4 linked regions of the Homo sapiens genome follow. The protein of the gene in region 2 purifies or fractionates together with the protein of the main gene of each other region. This does not show direct contact. Each region holds a gene or a part of one and is shown on either strand. Other genes may lie near its edges.

Region 1 (3,500 bases), on a different chromosome or scaffold from region 2:
TTGCACAAGTGACCAGAGAAGGCAAGACCTGAGTCGGGACCGTGGACGGAGGGGGCAGCTAGGTGGGGAAGAGGGATGACTCCAAGTGGCGGTAATGGTGGTGGCCACGTTGAAGTCTGCGTGATAACTATGGTGCTGGAGTTGTTTCTAGTGTCATGATTTCAAACTTGGGTTAAGCAGCTTTCTTCAATTTTCACTGACTCTCCAGTCTCTGCCCCCTGCCCACAAACTTCCTGCACCCATCCCTGCCCCTTTATCACTCACCCTACCCCCAGTAAGTACAAGGAGAAGGGCTGAGATTAGATCTGTGGGGAGGGGCGCTGGGGAGGCTGCAGACCCTGCCTGGGCCCAGACAGGGTTCACTAGTGTGCCTGTGTGTATTTGCATGTGTGTGGGCCTGTGGGTGTGTATGTGTAAAAGCCCCAGGCAGCCACAGAGCCAGGAGTCGCTAATAGTTTACATTAGAAAGGTGAATGTCAGCCAAAAATAAAATTCTAAACTCCCCCAACTAACTGAATGTAGCCCTTCTCTCGGCCCAGGGCATTCTAAAGTAAAACTGAAACACTGGTTCAGGCCATGATGGGAACGGATGTTCGGATGTTCGCACAAGCCTCATTATACCTTCCTCCCTTTGGAATTCAGGCATAGTTGACCAGCAGTGGTCAATGGGAGCTGAATAGGTGTGGGTTGAAGGGGAATCAAGAGTTGAGTTCTGGACATGTTGATATGCCCACGAGAAAACATGCAAATGTGCGTTAAAGCAAAATGCAGTGGCTCCTGCCTGTAATCCCAGCACTCTGGGAGGCCAAGGTGGGAGGATTGCTTGGGGCCAGGAGTTTGAGACCAGCCTGGGCCAGATGGCAAGACCTCATCTCTACAAAAAATTTGCCAGGTGTGGTGGCTGGTGCCCACTACTTGGGAGGCCGAGGTGGGAGGACCACTTGAGCCCGGGAGGTCAAGGATGCGGTGAGCTATGATTACACCACTGCACTCCAGACTGGGCAAAAGAGTGATACCCCGTCCCTAAAAAAAATATAAAGAAAAAGCATTCTTCAGTACAGTGAGGCATCTTTTTAGATTAGTGCTTCTTAATCATTTTAGGGGTGAAGGACCTGAGACTTCCCTCTTCAAATTAGTACCTAGAGGCATGCACACGCAATTTTGGGGGTGGTTTCAGCACCCCATGTGAGAGGCTGGAATCCCATTTTAGCCACCTCCACATGCCCTGCCTCAATATGTCACAGCCGTGCATCAGACAGATGCTTTCCTTACCACTGGTAGACAGAGATCTCATGGTTGTCCACGACCAGTTGTCCATTCCTGAATTCCACACTTCCCTTGTATCGGCCGTGGGTGGAGTCATACTTAAACATGTACACCTGTGGGGGATGGAATGGCTCCTAGTCTTGGGGTGGCAGGGTGAGGATCCCTAGAGAGTCCCCTCTTTGGTGAAGGTCTCACATTACAGCTGAGAGCCTTCCATACAGCTTCCCTGAGTCCCTTTCCCACCCCAGTCCCACCCTGCTGTTCCTGCCCTCTGCCAGCTACTGACCATGTATTCCGGGTCAATGAATGGATCATTCACAGCCACCACCTTAACACCCTTCTCCATGCAGGCGCGCAGGACCAGGCGACCGATGCGTCCAAATCTGGCCAGGGACAGACAGGAAGGGATGGGAGAGAAGGGGGTAATGGAGAGGAGGCTCCCTCAAGGAGCCTGGTTGGGAATCCTTAATCCAGGGGAAGAAGGCAACAACCTCTGTGCTGGCCATGGGCATCTCTTGCCAAGATGACCTCACCAGCCCCTTTAACTGCTTTTTCAGCTCCCTCTCCCAATCCGTTCCCTAACCCATATATACATATATATATATATATATTTTGAGATGGAATCCAGCTCTTTCGCCCAGGCTGGAGTGCAGTGGCGCTATCTGGGCTCATTGCAACCTCTGCCTCCTGGGTTCAAGTGATTCTCCTGCCTCAGCCTCCCAAGTAGCTGGGACTACAGGCGCGTACCACCACACCTGGCTAATTTTTGTATTTTTAATAGAGACGGGGTTTTGCCATGTTGGCCAGGCTGGTCTCGAACTCCTGACCTCAAGTTGATAGACCCGCCTTGGCCTCCCAAAGTGCTGGGATTACAGGCGTGAGCCACTGCGCCTGGCTCCTAACCCCTATTCTTAACCTTGTAGCTGGATGGATCTTTTATTTTTTCATTAAACAATTAAAACAATTTTTTTCTGTAGAGACAGAGTCTCGCTATGTTGCCCACGCTGGTCTCAAACTCCTGGTCTCAAAGGATTCTCCTACCTTGGCCTCCCAAAGTGCTGGGTTTACAGGTGTGAGAGCCTGGATGGATCTTAAAACTTCAAGACAGATTACGTCTCTTGGCATGAAAACATCCACGACTGTCCATCAGTAAAACAAGATCCACACTCCTTACTGTGGTGTAGCAGCCCCCTCCGGGCTTCTCACTGGCCTCCCTCCTTTTCCCTTTGCTTGGTGGACACCAGCCACTCTGACTTCCTGGCTGTCCCTGAACATACTGAGCTCGCCTCTGCCCCAGAATCATTGCTTGTCCCGCTGCCTGGAAGACTCCTTCCCCAGCAAGGTGCCCTGGGAGCTGGCTGTGTCTCATCACTCTGGTCCCGCTCCAATGACACCTTCTCCCCAAGGCCTTCCCTGATCACTGGCAAAGGCTGCCCTCTCCAGCCTGACTTTTCCACTGGATTCTACACTGTTCCCAGCACACTCTACTGAACAATCTAATTTCTTTATTTGATTACTGTCTTCCCCACCAGCATGCTGCTGAGCATGGGGCCCTGTCTGCCTTGCTCCGGGCTATTTCTCCAGGGTCGTCGGAACGAAAGCATTGATGGGGGGAAATGTGGAGGTGCCCCCAGTTAGCAGCCAGAGGAGGGGCTGGGCTCTAAGGCTTCAGACTGATCAGGGGCTGGAGTAGACTCACCCATTGATGCCCACAGTCAGCTCCCGGGCCACAGACACCATCTTAGGAGGAGGAGTAGCGGGGTGAGGAGGCAGTGGTGGCGGTGGTGGCTTTATTTCCTCCCTGACTGGTGTGGGCTCTGGTTGTGGCTGGGGCTCTACTTCAGCCTTAGGCTCAGGTGGGGGCGGTGCTCTGGTCACTATGCGGGGGAAGGGAGGGAATGGGTTGCATGACCACCAAAGTGAAAGAGAACAAACTGTCTTTGCTGCCCAGAATCTGTTGCTGGCTCCTGGCCCCTCGTGACCAACCATTTAGCCCAGTGTTTCCCAAACCCACTTTCTCTACAGAATGAACTTGTTTAAAATGTCAATCCCAAGGGCTCTTTCCTGGAGATTCTAATTCACTGGTTATGTACTTCCGTTGTTTTTTTTTTCCCGAGACAGAGTATTGCTCTGTCACCCAGGCTGGAGTGCAGTGGACTGATCTTGGCTTACTGCAACCTCCGCCTCCTGGGTTCAAGTGATTCTCCTGCCTCAGCCTCCCGAGTAGCTGGGAT
Region 2 (5,040 bases):
GATGAGATGAACAGACCAGATCCAGAGACTGCCCTCTGGGAGCTTATAGCTCAGCAGCGGACACAAACTTGAAAAAAGATCCACAGAAGTAAATGCAAAACACAGCTTAGATGGGTGATGTGAGGGAGAAGTCACTGTGGTTTGAAAGTACATAACAGCGCTCTGACTTAGCCAGGGCAATCAAGGAAGGCTTCCCTGGGGAGGTGACTAGTGTGCTGAGTCTGATAGAGTGGTGGTTGTCTGTGAAGCCCTTGAAGGCAGGAGCTGTGATTCACTTCAGGGTCTCCAGGGCCCAGCACAGAGCCTGGAACATAGTAGGTGCTTCTTGGATGTTTGCTGATTGAATGAATGAGCCCTGGATCCCTGCCCTCTAAGAGCTCCACAACACATGGAGAAAAAGGCCTGGGAACCCCAGAGAAACAGGAAGCCAGGGCAGGGGCTGGGGGAATCTTGAAGCAGTCTCCCAAAAGCGAGCAAATCCTTCAGGACTCAGGCAACTTCCTCCCTCACACACACAGGCATGCACTGCCCGCTTGTCCCTTTGGGAAACATTCAGGGATAGTAGAATTTGCTGTCTGTTCATTCATCTGTTAGCATACGATCCTGGGAGAGAGTGGACAGGAATACGGTTGAGGCCTGAGGACCCTACTGTGTTGGCTTGCGGGGAGGCTGGCATTGCAGGGTTTTGAAATGGGCCAAGCACGGACAGGCTCGTGGGTTTGTGTCAGTAGTGATTCCTCTGACAGCTCTTGGGGGAGGATCAATGATGGGGATTGGAGACGGAGGGCAAGGCAAGAGGCTGGTGAGCAGGCGGTTGTGGTCATGGTCCAGATGAAGGAGGAAGTGGTCTGTGGCTGTGCAGGTGGAGAAGAGGGCTAGTCTGATAGTCTGATAGTTTGTGTCTCATGCCCCCACCTCCAGGAAGCCTTCACCGCTTTCCTTTCCCTACCTCCATTCTGCTGGTGGTCTTGGAGCTCTGGGCCAGAATCTGAAACTCTAAACTCAGAGACAGTCATTGTTGGAAGGTACCTTAGGCTCGGAGGACGTTTGGCATAGTGGGAAAACTGAGGCCCAGAGAGAGGGAGTGCCGTACCTGAGGCCACACAGCGAGTGTGAGAGGGTACCTGAACTGGGGCTGGAACCCCAGGCCGTTGCTTCTCTGTGGTGCTTGGTTCTTCCAGCCTTGCTCCCCTTCCAGCAGGGAGGAGGCTCCAGCAGTGCTGACTGCCAAGAGCTAGGAAAACACATTTTTTCCCTGTCCTCACAGAGCGAGCAGAATGGCTCAGCAGCCAGAAAGGAGCCCATGCCAGCGGGTGGGCCTTCTACAGGATGTCTCTGGAGTGGACTGGTGGGGCCAGGGAGGGGGACGTTGGAGGGTTGTGGCTGCTGACTGGACAAGGCAGTTGTCAGTCCCTCAAGAGTCACCTCTCTCCTTATGCCTCCAGAAGACGTCATGAACCTGCAGACCCTGGAGGTCAGCTCTGCTGGCTTCCAAGGGAAGAAGCCAGGGAGAGGTGGTGGTGGCCGACATAGAAGACAGAGGACCCCTGGGTTCCAGTCCGCCACGGCTACCAAACAGTGGCTTGGTTGCCTCAGGTGCTGAACAGGGGATCGGATCAGCTACTATTTCTCAGGCCCAGGGTCAGCCAGCCTGGCAAAGGCAGAGGACCCAGGCCCCTTGGCAGCCCCTGGCCTGGGGTTGGCAGCGGAAAGCCTGAGGTTACCAGAAAGTTCCCCCTTCTTGTGACTTTCCCCCTGTGATTGCCTGACTGCTGAGCTAGGACATTCCTGGGCAAACGTGGGTGCCTCAGCTGACATCCAGGATGCGGTTGAGGGGGCTGAGGCTCGGACAGGAGGGCATGGAGGAGTGGGGGAAGAGCAGGTTCAAAACCTTCCTAGCACCTGAGGGTATTTACAATCACAGCCAGCTTCCGCTATTATCAAGGATAGGGAATGGCTGATGGTTCCATCTCTCAGGCCTGGTCTGGAGGCAGTGTTGAGGATTCTAGGCTGTGTCCAAGCTCAGGAGAAAACAGTTCTGTGCTGAGAAAGACTCAGGGGCTGTGGCCTGCCTCACTGGGAATTGGTGCTGTGTGTGGTTAGTGATGTCTCTGTTGCTTGTGGATAGTGGGATGATGGTGAGATGAGGTGATCTTTCTTGCCTATGCCTCCTTTTTTTTTTTTTTTTTTTTTGATGGAGTCTCGCTCTGTTGCCCAGGCTGGAGTCCAGTGGCTTGTTCTCAGCTCACTGAAACCTCCACCTCCCGGGTTCATGCAATTCTTCTGCCTCAGCCTCCCAAGTAGCTGGGACTATAGGTGTGCGCCACCACACCTGGCTAATTTTTGCATTTTTTTTTTTCTTTAGTAGAGACAGGATTTCACCATGTTGGCCAGGCCGTTCTTGAACTCCTGGCCTCAGATGATCTGCCCACCTTGGCCTCCCAAAGTGCTGGGATTACAGGCGTGAGCCACCACGCCTGGCCTTGCCTAAGCCTTTATATTTTACACACCAAGATTATTGTGATTATTCCCACTTAGCAAGGAATCCAGGACTCAGGAAAAATGACTTGTGCATGAGGCCAGACTGTGCCTCTGAGGTTCTGTATCAGCCGCAACACCCAAAGGGCAGTTGATTAACTTGCGTGGGGAGAGGCTTCCCTTCTCCCATTGGGTCTTTCTGTGTAGCTCAGGTGGCCAAGCATCACTGCACGTGCCAGCTCCCCAAACGGCTGGTAAGGGGGCCTGGATACTTAACTGTAACTTGCAAATCGTATCCCTAGCGGGCCCAACACAAATCCTGGAGAATCAGAGCTGGGGTGGCCTTGGAAACTGGCAAGTCCAGCTTCATCTTCACAGGGCTAGGGAAACAGGGCCCAGGGAGGTCGCCCTGCCAGGGCCACACAGGGAGGAGGTGTGTGGCTCCATGTGGCCTCAGGCCTGAATTCTATTATTATTATTATTATTATTTTTGAGATGGAGTCTTGCTCTGTCACCCAGGCTGGAGTGCAGTCGCGTAATCTCGGCTCACTGCAACCTCTGCCTCCCAGGTTCTAAGCGATTCTCCTGCCTCAGCCTCCTGAGTAGTTGGGACTACAGGTGTGTGCCACCAGGCCCAGCTAATTTTTTGTATTTTTAGTACAGACAGGGTTTCACTGTGTTAGCCATGATGGTCTCAGTCTCCTGACCTCATGATCCGCCCACCTCGGCCTCCCAAAGTGCTGGGATTACAGGCATGAGCCACCTTGCTTGGCCATCTTTTTTTTTTTTTTTTTTTTTTTTTTTTTTTTTTTGAGACAGAGTCTCGCTCTGTCACCCAGGCTGGAGTGCAGTGGCGCGATCTCAGCTCACTGCAAGCTCCATCTCCGGGTTCACGCCATTCTCCTGCCTCAGCCTCCCCAGTAGCTGGGACTACAGGCGCCCACCACCACACCCGGCTAATTTTTTTTTTAAGAGGCGGGGTCTTGCTTTGTCACCCAGGGAGTGCAGTGGCGGGATCACAGCTCACTGCCGCCTTGAATTCCTGGGCTCAATGGTTCCTCCTGCCTCAGCCTCCTGAGTAGCTGGGGCTATAGGTGTGCACCACTGCACCCGGCTAATCTTTTTATTTTTTGGAGATGGAGTCTAGCCATCTTGCCCAGGTTGGTCTTGAACTCTCAGGCCTGAATTCTACCCCATGCTGGCTGTATGAGCCTGGACTACTCTATTGTCCTCTCTGGGCATTACCTCAGGGTTGGGCGAACCAGGGAGGTGACGGTGTGAAGGGACCAGGTTTCAGTCCTGGGCCTTTGCAGCTATTCATTCACACCTATTGTGTGACTTCAGGCAAGTGCTGCCCCTCTCTGGGTCTCTACCTCCCCTTGGGTAAAGGGAGGAGGCAGGACCTGATGGCCTCTAAGGGCCTTTCCTGCAGTTCCCTGTGTGACCCCAGCCAGCTGGGAGATGCTAAATCAGAGCGAGACCCCAGTGCTGGCTACAGGCCTGACCCCTCCTGGACAGACAGCAATTCTAACCTCCCAGCTGCTCACTGACCTCTACAGTGTATACCACTTGATTCCACCAAAACCCTGCGAGGCAGGTATTGTTCCGATCCTTTAGATGGGAAAGTGGAGACCCAGAGAGATGGAGTGGCTCACCCCAGGTCACACAGCCTGAGAAAACAGAGATGCGACTTAAACCCAAGCTTGACTCCCAATCCAGTGCTCCTTTCCCTGTTTCCCACACCCCACCTTTGGGCCCAAAGTCACGTGGATGGGATCCCCTCTGCTCTCTTCCCATTCGCCTAGCATCTGTACTGTCTCTGCCAACAGGCCCAAGGAAGCAGCTGGAGAGGAGGAAGAATTAGAGACAGGGCCAGGAGGTACTGAACTACGTTTCGGCTTGGAACCCGGCTTGGTGACAAGCTGGGTGATGGCGTCAGAGACTCTGACCATCCACCCTTCCCCAGTGCCTGCTCCCTGCCAGGTCTTGAGATGGGTGGCCTCAAGCACCCAGAGCTGACTCAGCCTCTCCCTGTCTGGTGGAGAGACAGCAAGGAAATACAACCCATTACACACAGGGGTGGGGGTCCCTAACAAGTCCTAGGGATCAGGGAGGGCTTCCTGGAGGAGGAGATGTCTGCACCCAGGGCCGAAGGATGAGTAGGAGTCTGCCAAACAAAGTAGAGGGGAGTGAGGGGAGAGAAATATCATGGGGTGGGAGGTGGCTCAGAGGCAAGAAAGCGCGGGTGGGAGGAAGTGAAAGAAATTCTGTGTGGCTGGAGCACAGAGTGGAGGTGGCAGTGGTGGGAAATGGGCGTGGGGCTGGACACACAGGGCCTGGGGTGCTGGGAGGGTGGGTCTGGACTCCATCCTTAGGATAGTAGGGAACCATGGAAGGTTTTTTTTTTGTTTGCTTGTTTGTTTTTGTGTTTGTTTTTGAGATGGAGTATCACTCTGTCGCCCAGGCTGGAGTGCAGTGTCGCGATCTCGGCTCACTGCATGCTTCACCTCCCGGGTTCACGCCATTCTCCTGCCTCAGCCTCCTGATAGCTGGGACTACAGG
Region 3 (3,500 bases), on a different chromosome or scaffold from region 2:
CTCTGATTATATCCAACAGATACACATTCTTGTCATAAAATATACATTCTCTAGTAAGTTATTTTCATCCACAGCATATATAAATATGCAAACACAGGTGGTAAAAATCACTTTACTACCAAAGTACAAAACAGCAACTGCTGAAAAACAAAAATTAAGATGTTGCACGTGTTAAGAAAAGAGTGACTCAGTGTTCCACTGCAAAGTGAAACCAAATGATTTATTTGTGCTAAATGAATGGAAATAATGTATTCAGAATATACTTCTTTGTACACTGCACTTGCTTATACTGGGTGAAATGAACAGCCATCAATGCTAATGTGCTACTTTCCTTTAGACCTTATTTTCTTTTCTGCCAAGCAATACAATATTTTCTGGCCATTATGCCAAGATAATGCGATAATGTCCATTTCAAATAGTATTTTCTAATGGTATTTTGCACCTTTAAAATATTTGTTCAAACTCTATTTTAAGAGAACACAAATGAAGTACGAAAGGGGGAAGCCGCATTGTTTTTGTTACAATCACACTGCCTTCTGCAGCAGAAATCAAATAACACATTCTAATTAGCCATTGAAACCACCGGTGAGTAGGACAACATTTATCGACTCATGTTAGAGGGGGCCAGGTTAAGTAGATTAACATTAAGGATAAAAAAGAGAATCACATCTTAATATACGATAATTATCCATCCCATTTATGTGGAGAAGGTACAGCCACATGATTCATTACTTTGGGCCATCTGTTTTACGAGAGACATGGATGTCAATAACACAATGAAAATAACCTGTAAAAAATGTATCTGTAGAAAGTTCTGTTAAACAGAAAATATGTCTTGGGCACTGATTCATCTAACTTTCTGTTCTACACTGAAAGCCAGATTTTCAAAGGTCTGAATTGTAGTGCTGAATTATTGGTATGTTTGGTAAACACTATTATAATGAGAGGAGGGTAACAACAGCTCAGTAATTTTCTGCAGATTCATGGAAAAAAATATAAAAAAGATATCCCTTTTTCTTTTACAAACCTAAAAGCCAGGAGAATGAAGCTCTGGGCCAAGCAAAAATTGCACACTGCTGCTGAAATACCAAATACCAAACAGCGAAGGTTCCAGCCAGGGAATGGACGTACATGAAGATTCAAGTAAAACACTGATGGAAAAAGTCGTCTGGTTAGTGTTGTAGACCCACAACACTGGCTGCATTTCTGACAAACATTTACAACACAATGGATAGTGAAGCCTAGATAACCTCAGTGCAAATAAGTCATATCCAAATATGCCAGAGAAGGAAGCCTTTGGCGTTGAGTAGACGGCTCCATTGGATGAGTCCCAACTTGAAATTCAGACTAAGCTCATGCATTAAGGCTGGGAGGAGGGGTGCGCCGAATGTTGCGAAGGAGTAGGCTGCGAGGTGGCTGCTGAGGGGACCGTGGGCTGCATGGGTGGCGGAGGTGGAGGCGGAGGTGGCTGGACTGGGGTCTGTGTGTTGGGAGATGGAGGCGGCGTGGGCCGTTTGAATTTGTCAGGACTGTTGCTTCTCCGTGGTGAAGGCCTCTGCAGAGGGGACAGGAACAGCAAGTCAGTCTAGGTACAGGTGGATCTCATTCTACCTAACACAGCCTGACTTGGCACTGGGGCTAATCAAACACTAACCAACAAAGACAAGAAACCAGGGATTTCTTTCTTCATCCCTACTGGTTTCTGAACTAGTAATAAAATTTAAATAAGGCAGTGTTTACACTTCCACCTATGAAAAAGCTACATAAAATTACTGCACAACTTGTGTTGAACAAACTGCTGGACTTGGGTCCTTCAACGAGAGCTGTAAAATATCCCCTTAAATCTTTCTTTCCGTGTGTGTCACCAATTCCCTCTATTGCTTATCTCCAATAAGTTGTCCACATCCTGAAAGATACAGCTCAACAGAAATGTTTCTATGTTTGAGGCCGGGTGCAGTGGCTCACACCTGTAATCCTAGCACTTTAGGAGGTAGAGGTGGGTGGATAACCTGAGGCCAGGAGTTCGAGACCAGCCTGGCCAACAGGGCAAAACCCCGTCTCTATTAAAAATACAAAAAGCAGCCAGGTGTGGTGCCGTGTGCCTGTAATACCAGCTACTCGGGAGGCTGAGGCAAGAGAATCCCTTGAGCTCCGGAGGCGGATGTTGCAGTGAGCAGACATCATGCTGCTGAACTCCAGCCTGGATGACAGAGTGAGGAAAAAAAAAAAAAAAGTTCCTACTTTTACATAAAGTCCATCAAACTGGCCAAACAGCTTCAGAAATACCTTAAGTGCATTCTTAGAATAGGGTTCTTCTTTAAAATATTATAATTTATTCTTTGAAATATTGGTATTTCTGTTATTGGAAATACCCTTAATAATACTCTCACTCTACTAGCTACATTTCTAATGGCTCTATTAGTCAACTATATTGCCGACTCTAAAGAAAAAACTCCCTTGGGTAGAGTTGGAACCAGATGCACTTAAGCTTCCTTGTAATTCGAGGAGAGAAAATTCTGAGTAACATTACAAACAAGGCTAACTTCAGGAAGAATACTGAAGGTCAGTGAACTGTGAAGGTGCAGACAATAAATATCTTTAGACATTATGGCAACCAACAATAATGCAAGGAGCTGGCCAGAGTTCAATCAAAGCACTGGCCAGAGTTCAAATTATATTTCACAAAGGGTAATTTTTCATAGGAAGTGAAGTTAAAGTTTTGTCTCCTGGGAAGGATTTTAGTTTCAATACCAGAATTTGGTATCAAACTGTTTAAGTCTCTACAGTTTCAAGGTGAACGGATGGAGGAGGCAGGAAGAAGGGCAAATGTCTAAGGGCACCGATCCTGTTCTCCAGAACACCAGTCGGTACCACTTTCAGGAGTAAAGTGCTGCTTCCTACCCCACGGACACTTACTGTGATACCATGGGATGTTCCCATGTGCTGCACGTGAAGACCCGGGGAATTGTAATAAGACATTCCAGCTCTAGTCAGTGAAGTTGGTGGCGTGAAACCAACCGTGTGACTTGCATATGATAGACCTAAAATATAACAACAAATTAAGTATCATTTTAAGCTCAACTATCTGGTGTCTTCAACTATCTAGGAGGTTTTAAATCGCAGTAGTTCTCTATCACCCACAAAAATACAAACAGATGAAAAGAATGATGGGCTCACTAAATGGTGTGGATAACAAGGGAAATAAATGTTAATTCCTAGGATAGAACAGAGAGCCCAGAAATAAACTCACACGTATATGGTCAACTGATCTTCAAAAAGGGCACCAAGAATACACAACGGGGAAAGAGAACAGTCTCTTCAACAGATGGTGTTGGGAAAACTGGATATTCACATGCAGAGGAGTGACACTGGACCTTATCTCTTACACTATATACAAAAGTCAACTCAAAATGGATTAAAGACTTAACTATAAGACCTTAAACTATAAAACTCTTAGAAGGAAAATAGGGGAAAAGCTCCCTGACATTGATCTTAGCAAT
Region 4 (3,500 bases), on a different chromosome or scaffold from region 2:
GCCTACTGTGTGCCCGCACCACCACACCTCCATCTAGTCCAGCTGCCCAAAGACACAGATCCCATGAGTGTGCCAAGGCTCAGAGAGGTGAAGCAACTTGCTCAATGCTACACGACCACGTTGATAAGTGGCAGAGCAGGGGTGTGAGCTACTCTTCTGCATGAAGTGAGTAGATGGGAGGAAAGGGTCAGGATTAGCCTCTGCCCTAGGGGGGTGCTGCCCCTTGGAAGCTGCAGATTCCAGATGGGGGTGTATGTGGGTGAGGGGGAAACGCCCTCATGCTCAGCACACTCTGCCTGAGGGGAAGGAAGAACCACCCGACTGAGCCCTGTACCTGCAGCAGCGTGGGAGGCCAGGCGCTGTGGCGAAGGTGCTTGACAATGGAGATGTGGCGTCCCAGGCTCCGGTGCACGCTGCAGCACTCGTCACACACCAGCACACCCCTGCTGATGGATGCCCAGCCAGGGTCTGCCAGGGTGAGGGCAAGGGTCAGCCGGAGCCAGATGATGGGCCAGACCTCCTGAGCACCTGCTCTGGCCCGTGCCAAGCCTAGTACTCTCCACACATTCACTCACTCAGTCTCCAACAGCCTAGGAGCTGGGACCATCACTACGGCCAGGTTACCAGTGAGGGATCTCCCCAAGAGCTCACAGCTGGGGGCTGACAGAGCCATGCCCTTTCCTACATCCTTACCCCTCTGGGATATGCAGTCCCCAGGGCCCATTCAGCAGGCACAGTTTCCTGCCCTGCAGCCACTGCTACCAGTCTCTCAGCCTTTTCCCAGGAAACGAGGTCTCTGCCCCAGCCCGTCCCGAAGGGAGGAAGGGATCCCCAAGGGGATGCAACCCAGATGCTGCTGCATGCCAGATGCTGTTGAAACATGCCTGACAGATCACACCCGTCCACAGGTCCTGCCTCTGGCCTCCTGCCAGCAGGTGAGGTCCTTTCATGCTGGAGCCTCCTGCCATCATCACTGAGGGTGTAAGCTGGAGCCCTCTTAAGGAAGATGGACAGAGCAAAGGAGCTGGGCTTGACTGGGCACCCACTAGGTACCAGCTGGGTACATTATGTGTGATGCTGCTTGCAACTGTCAGGCAAGGTAGGACATGCTACCTCTGTGATGAAGAAACAGTGGCTCAGAGAGGTTAAAGGGCTTATTCAAGGATGCGAGGCTAATGAGTAGAATTGCCAGGATGTGGCACTTTCATGCCTGAGACCATGCCATGTCCACACTTGCTGCTGTCCCTCTGCCTCTATAGCCTGCTCTCCACTCTTTTGGGAAAAGTGAACTTGGGAGAAGAAGCAGGGCCAGGACTGGGTGGGAGTTCCGGGGTTCTTCTCAAGGGTGGAGGAGATGCCACCCATCCTAGGCCCCTTGGGAGACAGCTGCATACGACTCAGGCTGCGGAAAGGTCACGGGGGAGAAAGCAGCCATTGTGTGCCGCCTGAGAGTGGGGGCAGGGCGCCTCTCTCCCAGGACACTTTGCTCTGCCCAGCGGCCCCCACCCTGTCTCAGGAAACCCTGTCCTGGGGTGGGGGTGGGGGACTGGCTCTCTGCCTTGCCCTGTAGCGCTCAGGGTGTTCAGAAGTATCCCCATCAGGGGAGGGACAGGCTTAGGGGGATAAGAATCTCTCCCAACTAGAAGGCAATTCTCAGGCCTTTCCCCTCTAAGGACTTCCACCAAAGTTCCCAGGAAAATTGAGGAGACTCTGAGTCAGGGGCCCAGCCTGAGCTCTGCCCACAGCAAGTGACCCCCACTGAGGCATGAAAACAGGAAGTAAAGGAGAGAGGCCTGTCTTTGGGTTTAGGCTTTTTTTTTTTTTTTTTTTTTGAGACGGAGTCCCGCTCTGTCGCCCAGGCTGGAGTGCAGCGGGTTTAGGCTTTTTAAGGGACCCCCTCCCAATCAGGGCAACAGAGGGATGCCCAAGGTGACCGCCAACACCTTCCTGGGGGGCTGACTCCAGGGCTCAGGAGGAAGGGACCAGCCTTCTTCGCCAAGAGGGGGAGCCCTAGCATGCACTTCTGGGCTGGCTTTACCCAAATAGTGAGGCACCCCAGGTGTGGAGACCTCCCTCTCCCCACTCCAAACACCACTGGGTCAGGGGGCTGCCAGCCAGCCACCTCCAGCAGCCCAGGCAGGAAGCCGGAAATGATGCAGCCCAAATTCCTCTTGGTGGGGTTTCCTGTAAGTGGGGAGCCGCCCAGGGCAGGATCATAAATGGGCTGATCTGAGGTCTGTGGTCCTACCGGAGAAGCCAGGCATGGAAGGCTGACTATATATCCACGGCCAATGGCTCCAGAGCCCTAAGCCATGGGCAGACCAGATGTGGTGAGTGACCCTGGCTATGGCAGTAACCAAGACCAGGATGCAGGAGTGTGGTCCAAGGGTTTGCCTGGCACTTTCCCCCAGCCTGGGGGAGGGGTTCTCCTTCTCCTCCAGGTGACCTGAGAAGAATGGTAGGCAAAGGACACTGTCCTGGTCTGGGCAGCCGCTATTGGTGTCAGCTCATTTCTGGATGACACAGATGGGACGCCCACCCTAACCATTCTGTCTCCTCCCTCTGTGCAAGTGCCCTTGGGACTACCCAGATTGTAGTTTAAGGTGAAGGGATCCTTGCGTCAAGAAGCTCCTTGGACCAAACCTGGGACGGAAAGGACAGGAACTGTAAGGGAACTCGTCAGCCCTCCCCCTGCGCTTCTGGCTCCACCGGCAGGGTATGGGTCTGTATGTGTGGAGAGGTAGCAGGCGTGATCCTGGGATCACGTTAACCAGTGCCAACCCCATGGAGGCCTCTACTACGGTGAATTCCTGCCACCACCTGAAGCCATCAGTGGCCTCCAGGGCCAGTAGGTTTGCACATACAGGCTAGCCTCAGGCCTCCCTCCCCTGAGCTAAGGGCCAGATCTCCACTAGACTAAGGGAAAAGCCCACATCATGAAGGCAGGCGAGAGTAGTCCTTGGGGTAGAGTCAGAATGGTGGTTACCTCTGGGGTGCACGGACTGGGAGGGGGTACTTGGAAGCCCCCTAAGGTGATGGAAATGTTCTATAACATGCTTGTCTAACCTGCAGTCCATATGCGGCCCAGGCAGCTTTGAATGTGGCCCAACACAAATTCATAAACTTTCTTAAAACATTATGAGACTTTTTTGTGACTTTATTTTTTATTTTTATTTTTGCTTGTTTTATTTAGCTCACCAGCTATCATTAGTGTTAGCGTATTTTAGGTGTGGCCCAAGAAAATTCTTCTTCCAATGTGGCCCAGGGAAGCAAAAAGATTGGATACCCTTATTCTATAACATGATCAGAGCAGTAGTTACATGGGTATACACACATGTAAAAGCCCATCAGGATGAACACTCAGGTGCAGGCATTGACACACACAAATTCTACCTCCATAAGGGAGGAAGAGGAGCCCAACATTTGTCCCACTCTGCAATCTACACTATGAAGAGACAAATCAGCCTGTAGCTTGTCCCGTAACATGTCCCCGGCCTTGC

The links. Proteins that work in one complex are often made in the same cells at the same time.
Region 1: the proteins of MAFF (region 2) and GAPDHS purify together in Homo sapiens (affinity purification with mass spectrometry; 3 studies listed by BioGRID and IntAct, with this or other methods). This does not show direct contact.
Region 3: the proteins of MAFF (region 2) and CCDC6 purify together in Homo sapiens (affinity purification with mass spectrometry; 3 studies listed by BioGRID and IntAct, with this or other methods). This does not show direct contact.
Region 4: the proteins of MAFF (region 2) and GIT1 purify together in Homo sapiens (affinity purification with mass spectrometry; 3 studies listed by BioGRID and IntAct, with this or other methods). This does not show direct contact.

The regions. Positions count from the first base shown.
Region 1 is NC_000019.10:35,536,456-35,539,955, reverse strand, and holds part of GAPDHS (glyceraldehyde-3-phosphate dehydrogenase, testis-specific), read right to left. Parts: intron 3,144-3,500; coding exon 2,966-3,143; intron 1,650-2,965; coding exon 1,553-1,649; intron 1,380-1,552; coding exon 1,273-1,379; intron 1-1,272. UniProt on the Homo sapiens protein: May play an important role in regulating the switch between different pathways for energy production during spermiogenesis and in the spermatozoon. Required for sperm motility and male fertility.
Region 2 is NC_000022.11:38,204,169-38,209,208, forward strand, and holds part of MAFF (transcription factor MafF), read left to right. Parts: intron 1-5,040. UniProt on the Homo sapiens protein: Since they lack a putative transactivation domain, the small Mafs behave as transcriptional repressors when they dimerize among themselves.
Region 3 is NC_000010.11:59,791,557-59,795,056, forward strand, and holds part of CCDC6 (coiled-coil domain-containing protein 6), read right to left. Parts: intron 3,042-3,500; coding exon 2,917-3,041; intron 1,556-2,916; coding exon 1,361-1,555; 3' UTR 1-1,360.
Region 4 is NC_000017.11:29,583,149-29,586,648, forward strand, and holds part of GIT1 (ARF GTPase-activating protein GIT1), read right to left. Parts: intron 469-3,500; coding exon 335-468; intron 1-334. UniProt on the Homo sapiens protein: GTPase-activating protein for ADP ribosylation factor family members, including ARF1.